Regions from separate parts of the Homo sapiens genome. Here region 2 is linked to region 1. Evidence: fine-mapped expression QTL. Tissue or cell type: cerebellum. Region 1 holds a variant in brackets; the other region holds the start of a gene. All regions are shown on one strand. Distances are from middle to middle.

Region 1 (8,182 bases):
TGAATAGATGGAGGACAGGGGACTTTTACGGCCAGAAAACTATTCTGTATGATACTATAATGGTGGATATATGTCATTATGCATTTGTCAAAACCCATAGAATGCTCTAAAAACTGCTCTAAAATATATAAAAAAAGAAAAGGCTGTAAATTGGTGCCAGTCCTTCCAGCTCTTTTCATGTGGGAGCAGGCAGATTAAGAGGCAGACACTTGTGTCCAGCAGCCGTTTAGCAGAATGGCAAGAGCTGGCTTAGAGCCAGGCTGCCTGGATTCATGTCCTGGTCCTGCGTCTCCTTTGTCTTGGGGCCTTGAGCAAGTTTCTGAGCCTCTTTGCTCTTCTGTAAAATAGGTTTAATGACGATCCCTTCCTGAAGGGATACAGGATTCAATGAGTGACTCCATATAAAGCTCTTAGAACAGTCCTGTGCTCACTGAAAATCAGCTGTGCTATTTATCCTGCATTTGGTTCTGGAATTCATAACTTGTGCCTCAGAGTGGAGGAGACAAAGGTTAAGGGTAACCTCTCTAATTCAGGCTCTAGTCTTGTGGCTCTCTTGCGGTTCCCTTTGGGTACCCTGTTCCCCAGCCTGGAATGCATTGGTCTCTTTTCTACCTGGCCAAATCAGATGTCTTTCGAAGTCAAAGTTTAGATGCCACCTTCTCTAGAGCTTTCTCTGGCTGCTTTATGTAGTTACTGGCTCTGTTTTCTGCCCCCACAGCATCCTGAATAGCACTTTGGTTAAACACAGTTGTTTACCTGTCTGCTTTCCTGGCTTTGCAGGGGGAAGGCTGGGATTTAGTCACCAGTGTTTTCCCAGCAGCTAGCCCAGTGTGTGACAGATGCTGTGAATGGAATGAAAACAGAATTCCCTGCCTCCCCCAGTAATAATAGGATGCTGCCGGAAATTGAATGCTGCAAGAAATGTTGAGCTTCCTGGCATGAGATCTATTTAAGTAGAGGTGGTTGATTGCAGCTGAGGGGATTTGTGGATCAGATGAAAGTAAATCAGATGACCTCTGAGCTCCTTCCAGCTCTGTGATTCTGTGACAGTCCTTCTCTGAGTGATGCCACAGCGTGCCAGTGTCAGGATCGCCCACGCCCAGCAGATGGGGATTGTTTTTTGATGTCCTTACAGGCCAGTTTCCATGTAAAGATCGGTTAGAAACAATTTTGTTCAATTACTTTTTAAAGAAAAATTTTGATTTTATAAAATTACAAACTTAAAACTCATTTTTCTTTGAGCTTTCCATTTTAGCTAACAAAACATTATTTTGTTTATAAATCTAGCAAATTGTAACCGTGTTCAAGAGAGTCTGACTGTTTCATTAAATAATAAATGATTGCTTTATTAAGTGATTAGTTTTGTTAGAAAGTTGAGTTATATTCCTTTGAACATTTTAAACTGCATTTGTAAATGTTATATTTTCTATATCCCTTTGAAGTACTTTATTATCAGAATAACTAAGGTTGTGCCAAAGACCTGAGAGGCGACCTGAATAAGACGGGGTAGCTGGAGCATCAGTAAGGATAACTCTGCAGTGACTGAAACACGTCAAATATGTTCAAACTCTTGAGTTCATAATAACAGGAAAAAAAGGAATAAGAAAACGTATGAGTCTGTTTTCACGCTGCTGATAAAGACATACTCGACACTCGGTAATTTATAAAGAAAAAGAGGCTTCATGGACTCACAGTTCCACGTGGCTGAGGAGGCCTCACAATCATGGTGGAAGGTGAAAGACACGTCTTACATCGTGGCAGGCAAGAGAGAATGAGAGCTAAGCAAAAGGGGTTTCCCCTGACAAAACCATCAGATCTCGTGAGACTTACTCACTCCCACGAGAACAGTATGGGAGAAACCGCCCCTGTGATTCAATTGTCTCCCATTGGGTCCCTCCCACAACACATGAGAATTAGGAGAGCTACAATTCAAGATGAGATCTGGGTGGGGACACAGCCAAACCATATCAGTTACCTTTAGAGGACACTAGGGAACTGCTTCACTATCTTGAAAAAACCGGTAAAATAAAGGGAAGAACTCAAGAACTGATGCTGCCTTTCCGACGAGCTCCACCTCTCAGTGTAATTGGACATTGATGAGGGGAAGTTTCTCGTTATAACTGTGATCCAGCTATTACTCGAAGCAGGAGTGAAGGGCCGTCACCCCTTGTAGCCTCTGAGGAATCAGCCACTAGACAGGGATTGTCTGTGGCTGCCAATAGTGCAAGTGTAGCCACCAAGACATCCAGACAGTCTGCGTGTCTCTTGATGGAAACAGGCACTACCACCTATCTTTGGGTTTTAGAGGGAAAAAAAAAAAAAACAAACCTAAGTCTTATCAAGCCTCTAGATCCACGTGCCAACTTATAGGCTACACAAAAGATCAAGGAAAATGTTAAACCAAATCACAAGGATACAACAAACGATTCCCAGAAGCTGGAAAACTTTATTGGAGAAATGAACCTGACAGCAAGGGACCTATAAGGGTCCAGGACACTTAAAATCCACATCTGCCAATTTCAGCAGATGACTTTCTCAGATCCTGTTTCAGTCTGTGTGTGTGTGTGTGTGTGTGCGTGCACACAAAAATGAGTGGGGAAATATGAACCTTGATGGGATATTCGATGACATTAAGAATTAAAGTAATTTTTTAGATGTGATGGTGGTATTGTTATTTGGTTAAAAATATCTTGTTTTTGGCCAGGCGCGGTGGCTCCTGCCTATAATCCCAGGACTTTGGGAGGTGGAGGCGGGGGGATCACAAGGTTAAGAGATCGAGACCATCCTGGCCAACATGGTGAAACCCCATCTCTACTAAAGATACAAACATTGGCCGGGCGCGGTGGCTCGTGCCTGTAATCCTAGCACTTCGGGAGGCCGAGGCAGGTGGATCACCTGAGGTCAGGAGTTCGAGACCAGCCTCAACATGGAGAGACCCCGTCTCTACTAAAAATACAAAATTAGCCGGGCGTGTTGGTACATGCCTGTAATCCCAGCTACTCGGGAGGCTGAGGCAGGGGAATTGCTTGAACCTGGGAGGCGGAGGTTGCGGTGAGCCGAGATCGTGCCATTGCACTCCAGCCTGGGCAACAAGAGCGAAACTCCGTCTCAAAAAATAAAAAAATAAATAAATAAAAAATAAAGATACAAAAACTAGCTGGGCATGGTGGCGTGCACCTGTAGTCTCAGCTACTCAGGAGGCTGAGGCAGGAGAATTGCTTGAACCCAGGAGGTGGAGGTTGCACTGAGCCAAGATTGCGCCACTGCCCTCCAGCCTGGCGACAGAGCAAGACTCCATCTCAAAAAAAAAAAAAAAAAGAAAAAGAAAAAATCTTGTTTTTGAAGATAAATGGCAGTATTTGCAGATTAAATTACATGATGTTTGGGATTTGCTTCAAATAATTTCGGGGGAAGGATGAGCTTAGTGGGTGGGAATATGGAAGAAACAAGATTACCCATGAATGGAGAATTGTTGAAACCGGGTTTATTACACTCTGGCCTCTCTTTTTGTGTACGTTTGAAGTTTACCAAAACAAAAACTTTTTAAAAATTCCTTCATCTAATAACACAAACCCTCCCAAATATTAGGTACTACTTGAAAAATGAATAAACTAAAGAATAAACTCATGTTTGTAAGATTTTAAATTTCCAATCACAAGTCTAAATTACTCAGCTACATATTTTGAAGTGGAGCCCTGAGACAAATCATCTTAAACATTATAAATAATTAAAGTACCAAAAGTGCTCAGATTTTTCTAAATACAGATTATTCTCTTAGGGTTTCGTTTCTCAAACATGTTTATATGACACTAACCCACCAAAGAATCAAATATGTAGTCCCATACAGTTTGGCATTACCTTGCTAAGCAATTGCTGGGCTTGTCTTCTCAGTGGACCGAGGATTCTCGATGACCAACAAGACCTTGGCCAATATGCCAACTGGGCCCTTGCCCAGGACAGAATAGACAGACATCCCGAGTGCTCTTTGGAGTTGCTGTGGCAATGCCTTCCAAATGAAGTCTGGCAGCCAG[G/C]CCTGTGGGTTGCAGTCCTGGCATTACCTAATTTTCTTTTTTATTATTCTTGGAAGTTTGTAACTTCCACTAAGAGAATAACTAATGGCCTTTGTGCTTTGGTTGGTTTTGCATTTCATTGGTTTTGAAAAGATGCTTAAATGGCTTCCTGGCCAGCTCCAAAGACTTTTAAACTTGAGGGAGCTTTCTGTCTGTGCTAGGGCTTTGCCTGACCCTGCAAAGAAAGCCATTCTAAGGAAGCATGCTGTTCGAACATTTGCAGGTTCTGTCTCATGCCATGTGAGCCGAGCTGCGCATTACAGCTCATTAGTGGGCCCTGAGTCAGGCGAGTGATTCACAGTCAGCATTTAAACGCGTAATAGAATTGAATGGAAAAAGTTGAACTGCATTATGAATTGTAAGGAAAATATTTTTCAAAACTTGTTTTTCATTTATATGTATGTAAATATAAATGAGTTTCTTATTGTGGGTCACTATGAAATCTGCCACTTCAACGTGAGGTCGGGAAAACTGGGAGCACCCAGCACATGAACAAGAGCAAGAATGAATCCTGAATTGAGAGTGAGGAGGCTGGCCCCAAACCAAGCAAACACCAGAATGCAACCTTGCTTAAAACAAACAAGAGCTACAAAAATAGAGCAAGTGGTGGCTCCTTAGGGGAGGGACAAATTTAGTGGAGGAACAAATGATTGTTGCTAAAGACATGGACTGCGGCATTTTATTCTGTAACTTGTGTCTTTTATGTCTGTTCCATCTTTCTATGCTCCTAATTCACCACTCCCTTTTGGTAGCACAGTGCTTGGTGCAATTAGGCAATCAATAAATATTTATTAGATGCAAATACTAGTAATCAAACCACCTGTTTCAGGGGGCCTGGGAGGAGGAGCCTGGGGCCTGGGAATCTACATTTTAACAAGTTTTCCAGGCAGCCAACCTGGCAGCAGTTGCAGACTGTTATTTAAGAAACACTGACCTAGTCCACCTGCTCATTTTGCTGGCCCAGGCCATACAAACAGCATTTGAACCAGTGAGAGCTTGGGTTGGCCACCTTCTGGTGGAGGGCTCTACCCACCACGTCACCCAGCATCTCATGTTGATCTGCTTTTCACCAAACATACTGCATGACCTTCTAGTAGGTGGTCTGGACTCCATGCTTCCTCCCTACCCCGTCACATCCTTCCTGTTGCCCTCAGACATTTCCCTAAATCACCCATCATTTCACTTCCCTGCTCTATACCTTTGACTTTCTCTCTATTGTTTGTAGCATAAGACTTACTGCGCATTCTGCTTGACACAGTCTTCCCTGATCCTATCTCCCCAATCTTGTCTCTCTGCCAGTCTCTGAACCCTCTTCTTTTGCTTTCTCTTCCTGCTGAGGCACCCCAGATTACTTGATGTGCCACAGGTACCTCACCCTTTCCTGAGTCTGATCTTTGGTTCATGTTGTATTCTCTAATTGGAGGAGCCTCTATTTTCATCTGAGTTGCATCCACCTCCCCAGACCCAGTTAAGTGCCGCTTCTATAAAAACTTCCCAGCCGGGCGTTGTGGCTTGTGCCTGTAATCCCAGCACTTTGGGAGGCCAAGGCCGGCGGATCACCTGAAGTCAGGAGTTTGAGACCAGCCTGGCCAACACGGTGAAACCCTGTCTGTACTAAAAATACAAATAAATTAGCTGGGCGTGGTGGCAGACACCTATATTTCCAGCTACTTGGGCGGCTGAGGCAGGAGAATTGCTTGAACCTGAGAGGAGAAGGTTGCAGTGAGCCAAGATCGTGCCACTGCACTCCAGCCTGGGTGGCAAGAGTGAAACTCCATCTCAAAAAAAAAAAAAAAAAAACAAAAAACAAACAAACCCAAAAAACCAATTAAAAAAAAAAAACCATTCCCTGCTTTGGAGCGAATCCATCCTCCCTCTCCCTGTGCCTCTCCTTGTTCTCTGCACATTTCTGTGACAACACCTAAGCCTTGCCTGCCTTGGACTTTGTGAGCTTGGCCTGTGTTTGTCTGATGAGAAAGCAAGTTTGCAGAAGGCAGTATTCGTGTGTTCTTTACTTCTCTTTATAGCCTTGCAAACAGTCTTAAACATTTATTAAATTAATTTTTCTATGAGTTCTGATTCTATCAAAGTTAATATTCATTGGCAGCTTGGCCAATTAACTTGTGTAAACAGACCTCTAATCTCATGTGAAGGCTCAACGCTCTTTGTGATTTCTTTACAAACACACCCAAAAAAAGCACTGCAGGGTTTGTGTGCTGCTCACGGTCAATAATTTTTAGTTTGTTTCCCTGCAGAGAGGAGGTAGACAGGTAGCAAAAGGGGAGCATGATCTTAAAGCGAAAGAGTTAGCAAAGTGGATCTTCAATAACTGCTTTTTTTTTTTTTTTTTTTTTTTTTTTTTGAGACAGAATCTCACTCTCTCACCAGGCTGGAGTGCAGTGGTGCGATCTTGGCTCACTGCAACCTCCGCCTCCCAGGTTCAAGTGATTCTCCTGCTTCAGACTCGGAGTAGCTGGGACTGCAGGCGCACGCCACCATGCCTGGCTAACTTTTGTATTTTTAGTAGAGACGGGGTTTCACCATGTTGGCCAGGATGGTCTCAATCTCTTGACCTTGTGATCCGCCTGCCTCGGCCTCCCAAAATGCTGGGATTACAGGTGTGAGCCACCACGCCCGGCCAATAACTGCTGTTTTTAAGAGACGAGGGTGGGAGTAGTTAGAGAAGTGAATAGGGCGTAAATGAAAACACAAGACAGGGTGGTGACTAAAGGGCCTCTGTAGTGCAGCCCATCCGTGTCTGTTAGAGAGCCCTGCAGCTTGGCTCTGCAGCCCATCCTAACTCTGTTTCAGGTCACTTCCATTCTCCATCGGCTATTGGAGAAGCCCAGCACTAGGAGCAATATTTTGGTCTATGCCTGAGATAGCAAATCCTCTGCCCGAAATTGGAGGGTAGAGCAGAAAGCTTAGCACAAAAGCGCGCAGGCTCAGACACTTTCATTTTGCTGACTTTGATGCCTATTAAATAACTTTCATGCAGTCACACTGGGGTGATTTTGGAAAGTGAAATCATGCCAGGCACAGTGGCTCACGCCTGTAATCCTAGCACTTTGGGAGGCCGAGGTGGGTGGATCGCTTGAGGACAGGAGTTCGTGATGAGCCTGGCCAACATGGCGAAACCCTGTCTCTACTAAAAATACAAAAATGAGCTTGGCGTGGTGGCTCATGCCTATAATCCCAGCTACTTGCGAAGCTGAGGCAGGAGAATCACTTGAACCAGGGAGGCAGAGGTTGCAGTGAGCCGAGGTAGTGCCACTGCACTCCAGCCTGGGCAACAGAGCGAGACTCTGTCTCAAAAAAAAAAAAAAAAAGTGAAATCATTATTGAATACCTTTTTTGTTTCTGTGGCAGGAAGTAAACCCAATTTTGAAAAGGTTAAAAATCCTCAAATTGAAATACTGATTTGTGTTTCGCTGTTGCAGGTTCCTTGCATTGACTCCATGGAGAGTATATCACCTGATTTCCGTCATGATACTTGGGCGTGTTATTATGCAAATAATAAAGGATATGGTTTTGTCTAGAACAAGAGGTAAGAATACTCAGATTTTATTTATATGGTATTTAATTTTCTAGACCCTGCATTTCTGATCTTTGTGTAGGCATATTAGCCAATTAGTCCTTTGAACAGAAGCAAATATAGGCATTGACTTAGCTGTTTTCAATACGATAATTTATTGAGGTGGTGCTGTCTTTGTAGCTACTGCTTGTAGGTAAAAGGTTTGTGTGTGCTGGTTTTTCTCTTGGTCTTAAGAGCTATTTTAAATACCACGTTGGTATTTAAGTAGGCTGCAGTGAGGATAACAGTTAAATATTTATTACATCTCACATGATGAAACTGGGCCACTGGAAAATGGACTAGTTTATGTAAAAATTTTCTCTGCCTCAATGAAGAAAAACAACTAATTCAGGGTTTAAAAGCAAGCGATGGTTAAATAATTTTAAAAAATGAGTTGATAATAAAAAATGAATAAATTTTAACATTAAGTTTAAAAGCAAGAGCTTGGTTTAAAAAAAAAAAAAATTGGCCTGAGGTGCTTTTTGGGTAATTTAACTGTATTACAAATCTGACTCAAGTCTTTTGCATACTTGGAGGG
Region 2 (8,182 bases), 42 kb before region 1:
TAAAAATGAAACTTGTCAGCCTCCCTTCCAGACTGGCTCCTTCTCCTCCCTCATTCTAGAGAATGACAAGGGAAAAGTCTCTGAGAGTGCCTTCCCTCTGCCAGGCTTTATATCCTCCATGGTCTGGAGATACCTTTCTAAAACACAGGCTAGCCCCTCTGTGTCCTGCTGCAAGCCCACCCATGGCTCCCTGTTGCTCTCAGGACAAAGCAGAAGCTTCTAGCATCATACAGGAGGAGCCCCACTGTGAGTAGCCTCCTGCTCCTCCCACCCCATCCTCCAGCTTAGATCTCCTCCAGGTTTCCAACCAGGGCCAGGCTGGCTCCTCTCCTGCTTCCAGACTGTGCACACCATGCTTCCCCATTCCCTTTGCCCAGCGCCTTCTTCAGGGTCTTTATCCATTGTCTATACTCTAAGCACCATGAGAGAAATAAGCAGTCCTGTTCATCTTACCAGAAGCCCACAGTCAGTCTTTCAGGAATGGCTGATGACTAGTGAATGAAGCAATGAAATAATGAGTGAATGATACGCAAGTACAATGATGCAGAACCAGGACCATCAAAGGGGGTGGGGGGAAGAGGTTGCAGCAAGGACCCGACAGTGCTTTGTCTGCTGGTTCAGATTCCTGTTGGGAAGGGGTTGGAAGTTAATGTCCTGCAGTCACCCCTGTGGATCATAGGTGTGCGTGTGTTTGTGTGTGTACCTGGGGATAGACAGGTAGGCTTCCTTGGGGGATATACTCATGTTGTCATGTGACCTCCGTTCTTTTCAGTTAACCATTTTGAAGCCTTAAAAAAAAAACTTCTTTTAGGTATTAGGGAGCAATACCCCAACTGATATCTGGGTGGCCAACATCTTGGCCACCATCTTTCTGGTAAGCACATCCCTTATGGAATGCTTGTCAAACACAGACTATGCTAGTTTGAATATTTCCGTCTGTATATGCACAACAGACATTCAACATAAGTAGAAATAGTGAATTCCTTCTGTGAGCCAGGCACTGGGCTGGGCCTTGGAAGCCAGGTTAGAGACCCGGGAGATGATCTTCCTTCCTTTCCAATTGCTCTGTGCCTGCTGATGCTGTATGATACTCTTATTTATCTGTGCTTAGAGTGAACTATCCAGGTTTTCTTAGTGAGAAGAAAATTATGGAAACTTAGGAATAAGGAGCAGAGGATATAGCAAGGGGAGGAGGGTAGAATTAGTTTAATAAAAGTACCAACACAAAAAAAATTCTATCTGCAGGCTAATAAACGATACAACATATACACAAGTGTATTAGTTCATTCTCATGCTGCTATGAGGAAACACTTGAGAGTGGGTAATTTATAAAGAAAAGAGGTTTAATTGACTCACAGTTCCGCATGGCTGGGAAGGTCTCAGGAAACTTACAATCACGGCGGAAGGCATCTCTTCACAGGGTGGCAGGAGAGAGAATGAGTGCTGAGTGAAGGGAGAAGCCCCCTTATAAAGCCATCAGATCTTGCAAGCACTCAATATCACGAGAACAGCATGGGGGAAACCGCACCCATGATTCAATTACCTACACCTGGTCCCACCCTTGACACGTGGGGATTATTACAATTCAAGGTGAGATGTGGGTGGGGACACAGAGCCAAACCATATCAACGAGCCTCCTTTTGTTTAAGGAATCATGGAGCTACTGTAAGATTCTAATATATAATATTGTAGAGAAAAGAAATTTCCCCAAAATATTATGACTAGGGGGCTTTTCCCCATCATTCTAAGTCTTAGCTTGATTTTGCCCTAGGAGACTTCCTATAGTGGGAATTAATTATTCATAATTTTTCCTCTCCTATTACAAGCTTTCCACATACTCTTAGATGAGAAAAGTGAGTGGCCTCTGTTAGAGAGTTCTTATGTGCATTTGGACTTTCTTTACTGGAGCTGTCTCATTTTCTAAACTCTCATTCAGTAGCTAGAACTTTTTTTTTTCTCAGACACGTTTCCAGTTTCCTTTTCTCAGATATATATTGTCAAATCATCTAGCTCACTAGTGTTAATCACTCTGTTCCTAATATATAGCAATAAAATTTCAGAAGAGAATCTTAGTAAGATTACTTGCAGGAGTTCAAGAATGTGGCGTGTTCTTAAAACTAGGGGACAAGGTTGATTTCAACCATTGTTAGCATTATGTTTCTGTAATCTTAGCCCTGAATAAATTACTCAAGCATCACAAAGATCATTAGACAAACAACAAAACAACAACAAAATCCCACCCAGCAGCACCATTTGTATGTCTATGCCAGTGTCTACTTCTGTCATACAGTTTGTAAGTATTAGAGGTCGGAGGTGAAAAGGAAAGGTTAATTAGCCCAGCCTTTTATGCAAAACAGGTTGCATAGCATTTTCTCCATAGTAATTTTGAGAGAGAGAGAAAGGATAGACTTTACAACACATAGCTGTGGGGAAGGAGGTTTATTATTAAACAGAGATAATAAATAAGTGTTGGAAACCACACACAGCAACTGGAGCTTAGCTTTTATGTGTCTTGGTTGCCAGCAGCTTTTACTACTTCAACAGATCCTGACAACAATAATTAGAATTCAAGGGAAGCAGGAGGAAGGTGATTAATCTTGCAAACCCATTTCTGGTAGCACATCAGCACTGGTCTGGGGAACGGGGACACCTGGTTCTTCCTCTCTCCTGCCCCATGTTCTCCACACTGGCTGCAGCACACATCTGTCTAGTGACAGATTTTAGAATAGCAAACCCTGGGCTGTATCAAGCGCCAAACAAAGGCCAAATGACACAATAAAAGCATCATTTATCTTTCAAAAACTTCTCCGCTACTGCCAAGAGGGAGGACCCACACCTGGGAAAAGATTGTCTCTCTTATATGGAAGAAACCTGAATTGTTTCCACGTTGCTTTTTCCTTGACACCCAGGCCACTTTCCATCGGGTTGTCAGGATACTCCTAAGAAGGGGAGTCGGAAATGCCAGATGTTCTGTATCACCTTTAGTTAAAAACCAAGCCTCCTGTTACTAGAGACCATTCAATGTCCACTATTCCCTTTGGTGAGTTACTTAAGGAACTGTGCGTCTCCACCTGCAACCCCATGCCTCCTCTCCTGTTGAATTCCCAACAGCAGTTATTGCCCCTGTCCCCAATCCCCACACTAATGGGGGCCCTACAATTTAGGGCAGAGGCCATTTATTACAAAACGCTCTTGAAACCTGATCCCTCCACTCCTCCCCTAATTTTGGATGCACAGTTTAAGTAAGGAATCTCTTAGCACTTAGCGAAGGCTTCTTCGCTGTGGCAGATATCACAATTGTAACTGGGCCCTCATCAGACTGGGAGCTTCCTGTGGGTGGAAGCTGCATCCACAGAGCTTAGCAATGCTTTGTGTACTCGGTAGGTGCTCAGTAAGCCTTTGCCTGGGCTCTGGGAATATAACTCCTTTGAAGTACAACATACAAGCAGTAAAGTGCAGACACCTGCAGTGAATGTACAGATCAATGGATTCCACGTGTGTATACACAGAGGTTTACAATGGCCACCCAGAGGAGCGTTACAGAACATTCCCCTAGAGACTCCCTTGACGCAGGGAATTTAATTGCCCTCCCTTCCATCCTGTGCAGGCAGGCTGGTTGCCAGTAAAGGGATATGAGATGCCCTGATGCATCCGCAGACAGAACCCTTAGTATGGGGGGGAAGGACCTGTCATTCTAGAGTAAAAGTAAGACCAGGAAGATTAAAGAAGACAAAAATTTAAAAATGCAAATGGTGAAAAGCATAAACAACTATTTTCCTCTCTCCCCACACTCACCCAGAAGCACCGGGGCCAAAGAGAGGGCATGGGAGGTCTCAGGATCCCCTGCCGCCCCACCACTGCCCTGATGCCCGCTTGTGACGCAGAGACCGGAGTGGCTCTGAAATTACTGTCTTCAAAGCAGGCCAAACCTTGCTTGACACGTGCAAAGTTCCAATCTCTTGCTTCTCAGCTCCCCGCACGCGCGGGCCAACGTGCACTTCTGAGCCAGATCACCTAGCCACAAGGAGGGGGAGAGAGGGGGAGATAGGAGGAGAGAGGGGAAGATAGGGGGAGAGACGGGGGAGAGAGAGGGAGAGGCAGAGAGAGAGAGAGAGACAGAGAAGAGAAAGGAAGCACCTGAGACAGAGAGAAAGAAGAGAGAGAAAGGAAGCAGCTTCCCCCAACGCTGCGGCCTTGTGTTTCCTCCCGTGTCAAACGAGAGGGCCCCAAATTGACCCCAAATGTTTTTTCTTCCTTTCTCAATCCAACATTTATACCAGCACGTTATTTCCAGGATGCCCAGGACCTCTGCTATGGTTGTGCTGCTGTCCCTGCAAAGGCGCTGGGGATGGCCGAGGTGGGGGATGTCTCTGGGGGCTGAAATACGCTGCCAGGGGAAGGGGCGCCCCGATACCACCCTCAGTGGCTGCTGGTTGGGCGACCGGTGGCCCTGGCTTGAGAAAGTGAAAATGTCCAATCTATTTTGCCTGGAGCCTTGGGTCTCTTTTGGATACGGAACCGAGCAGCAGTCCTCCACTTCGCCCTCTCCCGCCGCTGCAAGGGAAAAGGTCGTTTTCCTCGAGTCCCGGAGAGGCCCTCCAGGAACCCAGAGCCCCCCGGGGACACCGCCCAGCTCCCGGCGCCCGGCCCCGCCCCTGCGCGAACTCGGCCGCACCCACTTTCCCGGGCGGCTCCCCCTCCGTGGCCTGTGGCGTCACAAGGCCCCCAGCCGCCTGTGCCCCGCGGTGCGCGCCCCGCTCCGGGACCTGCCGCCACCGCCGCCCCGCCCTCGGCGGCACCCACACCCAGGCGCGCCCGCGCGCGCGCCCGGCCCCGTCCCTGTCTGGAAGCACAGCTGAAGATGGCGAGCCCGGCGCCTCCGGAGCACGCCGAGGAGGGATGCCCGGCTCCTGCCGCCGAGGAGCAGGCGCCGCCGTCGCCGCCACCGCCCCAGGCATCCCCCGCAGAGCGGCAGCAGCAGGAGGAGGAAGCGCAGGAAGCTGGGGCGGCGGAGGGCGCGGGGTTGCAGGTGGAGGAGGCCGCGGGCCGGGCGGCGGCCGCGGTAACCTGGCTGCTCGGGGAGCCGGTGCTGTGGCTGGGCTGCCGCGCCGACGAGCTGCTGAGCTGGAAGAGGCCGCTGCGGAGCCTGCTCGGCTTCGTCGCTGCCAACCTGCTGTTCTGGTGAGAGCTTGGGCAAGGTGGGGGCGCTGAGGAGGGCAGGTGACCTTGGGGCGCCCGGGGCCCCGGGGACCCAGTGCAGGGGGAGCCCGCGGGACACTGCGGAGGAAGAATTGTCAGCCCTGCCCCACTTTCTCGGCCACCTGTCTCGAACAGGTAGACACTCACCGCAACTTTCCTCCGGACGCACGTCCCTGTGAGCAGTTGTCGTTCTCCGTGTGCGGATCCAGCCTCAGATGCGAGGTGGTCGGCCGACCCTCAGGCACCTGCACCTACAGGTGTTCCCATCGTGCTTGAAAACTTCGCCCCTGCTTTCTAAAACTCTGAGGTCTTGACCTGCTCGCCCAAGCTTGCCGGAGCAAACGTGCTTGAACGTGTCTTGGTTCTTGCAGCCCCAGCAGGCATATCTGGACCAGATTAGGTACCCGTTCAAAACGGTGCCGCATTCATCAGTCACCTGAGATGGGCCCTGAATGATTTGTTTTTTCCTTCCCCTGGAGCGTTAGGTTTACTGTGTTTACTCCCTGATGAGAAAACGGGAGGCAAACAAGCAGGTGGAGTATGCCCAGCACCCACCCCCGGGTGTGCACAGTGTGGAAAACAGGCATATTTTTAGGTGAAGTACAGGGAGAACACACGGGAATGCTCAGCCCCTGAGCAACAGGTTTGTCTCTCCAAAAAGCGCTCTTCAGAAAGGCCAGGGAAATGTCTGTCTCCTTCGTTGAAAGTGGTGTCCTGTCATCCGTTACCACGCTATTGAGGGCGGAGAAAAACCTTCTTTGTTTGCTAAGTGTCCTCATAACAAACATGACCTACACAGTGCAGAATAATCAGACTCCGGTAACAGATACCTTGTTACAGGACAGAGATTTCTGAACCTTAAAGTTGAGAAATAAATAAATTGCACAAAATAGACAGCCTGTCATTTTCTAGGTTAACTTGAGCAAGATGAATATTTTCCTCAGATCTCTGCTAGTCCTGGTGTTTTCTCTTAAAACTAGCTGTATCTTGTCGGAGGTCCCTGAAAGTGAATTAACTTTGGATCTCTTAGGTATCTGTGTTTGGAATAGAGTTTATTCCAAATCTATCTTATTATGGAGTGAATGCGAGCACTCAAATAAGAAGGACATATTGTCTTATGCTAGATTGGGCAATAGTCTAATAGTCTTAGGGCTGTGTCTCACTAATGTTTACGATGTTTTTAACATTTTATTTCTTTTTCTTTTCTTTCTTTCTTTCTTTTTTTTTTTTTTTTGAGATGGAGTCTCACTCTGTCGCCCAGGCTGGAGTGCAGTGGCGCGATCTCGGCTCGCTGCAAGCTCTGCCTCCCGGGTTCACGCCATTCTCCTGCCTCAGCCTCCCGAGTAGCTGGGACTACAGGCGCCCGCCACCACGCCTGGCCAGTTTTTTGTATTTTTTTTAGTAGAGACGGGGTTTCACCGTGTTAGCCAGGATGGTCTCGATCTCCTGACCTCGTGATCCGTCCGCCTCGGCCTCCCAAAGTGCTGGGATTACAAGCGTGAGCTACTGCGCCCGGCCTTAACATTTTATTTCTTAATTTTAAATTTTATTTCTTTAAAAAACTAATACAGTCTCACAGTGCAAAAGTTTAAAGGTACAAAAGGGTAAGCATTTTGAAAATCTCTTTCTCATCCCAGTCCCTGGCCGCCCAGTTTCCTCACGGAGGCCAGCAATGTTGCTAGTTTCCTGTGTCTCTTTCCAGATAGTGCACATTTCAGCAAATACACCATATTCTATGCAAATTGTGGAATAACATATGAGCTCTTCCTTTTCCTAGTATTTCTTGGTGATTGCTTCCTTGTTCTTTTTCAGCTGCTTCAGAATTCTATTGTAAGGATGTCTCAAATTACTTAACCTGTCTCCTACTGAGGCAGTAATGTTTCCAAGCTTTTGCTATTTCAGCATTATAGCTAATGACCCTGTACATGCATCATTTTGCATATATGCAAGTATTTTAGAGAACTTCCCAGAAGTGGAATTGCTGGGTCAGAGGGCATGTGCACTTGTAATTTTGATGGCTGTCACCATATTGCATGCAGCTCCTTAGGGTTCTAACAATTTATACTCCCACCAGCAATGTGTATGACTGCCTGCTTTGCCACACTCTTGCGAAGAATATTTTATGAAACTTTTTGATCCTGCAAATCTGATAGGTGAAAAAGACTATCCCAAAATGATTTTATTTTGCAGTTCTCTGTGATTGAGCATTTTATCTTATGTTTAAGAACTACCACATTTACCATTTATCAGCATTGTTTGTTTATAAATAACCTTTGTCTATTTTTTCAAGTAGGCCAGTGTTCTTTTCCTTATTGATTTATAGGAGCTGTTTTTATATTAAAGACTTTAGCCTAATTTCTGTAACATGAGTTGCAAACTTTTTTCTATGATGTTTTCTTTAATGACACCTATTGAAAATAATGTTTTTGCATAAAATAATTGAAAGGCATATTTGATAGTATCCAGGGGTGTTTTCTTCCATCCATTTTATTTATACTGACGGAGAGGAAAACATTGGCCAGCCATTCAGCCTAGATACAGCCTTCTCCTTATCTGTTTTATTTCATCTCCTGTTTGTGGCATCTGCATTCCATGCATGTATTTTCTTTGACAAAAATGACTGTCCTGTTCTTTAAGTTCAGAATTACTTGTTGCTTTTGCATTATAATTCATTGGAATTTATGACCCATTTATTAATGTCATTAAAATTTTGTTTTTTTTTCCCTTTTATTTGTTGCTCTGGGGGTTAAAATGATTTTCAAGGACATTACGTTTTCTTTAAATAATGTATTTCTTCTCAAATGATCTTAAATTATGTGATACTCTAACCTTCTGTGTCTTGGGAACTCTAAAGCACTGTATTTTCTATGAGAAAAAAAGATCAATTTTAAAACTGTGGGGAACCCAACCAAATCTGTCTTAAGCAATGGGATGTTGTTTTCACTTTAATTGATGTATTTCATTTTTGTGGAAGTAAACTTTT

Evidence for each region. PIP is the estimated chance that this variant, and not a neighbour inherited with it, causes the effect.
Region 2: RETREG1 starts here. The variant in region 1 is fine-mapped to the expression of RETREG1 in cerebellum (GTEx, PIP 0.92).

The regions. Positions count from the first base shown.
Region 1 is chr5:16,571,431-16,579,612 of GRCh38, reverse strand. RETREG1 (reticulophagy regulator 1) reads left to right here. Exons shown (of 9, transcript NM_001034850.3): 2 at 7,511-7,617. Among named protein-coding and RNA genes, the nearest start is that of RETREG1-AS1, 40 kb to the left of the region's middle. RefSeq lists an enhancer at 3,926-4,490. The variant G/C (reference allele first, on the strand shown) is at 4,032.
Region 2 is chr5:16,613,651-16,621,832 of GRCh38, reverse strand. RETREG1 (reticulophagy regulator 1) reads left to right here and starts at 4,836. Exons shown (of 9, transcript NM_001034850.3): 1 at 4,836-5,181. The coding sequence starts at 4,862. It overlaps RETREG1-AS1 (RETREG1 antisense RNA 1), which reads right to left and starts at 5,907. Exons shown (of 4, transcript NR_109946.1): 1 at 5,347-5,907; 2 at 1-55. RefSeq lists a silencer at 4,593-5,082.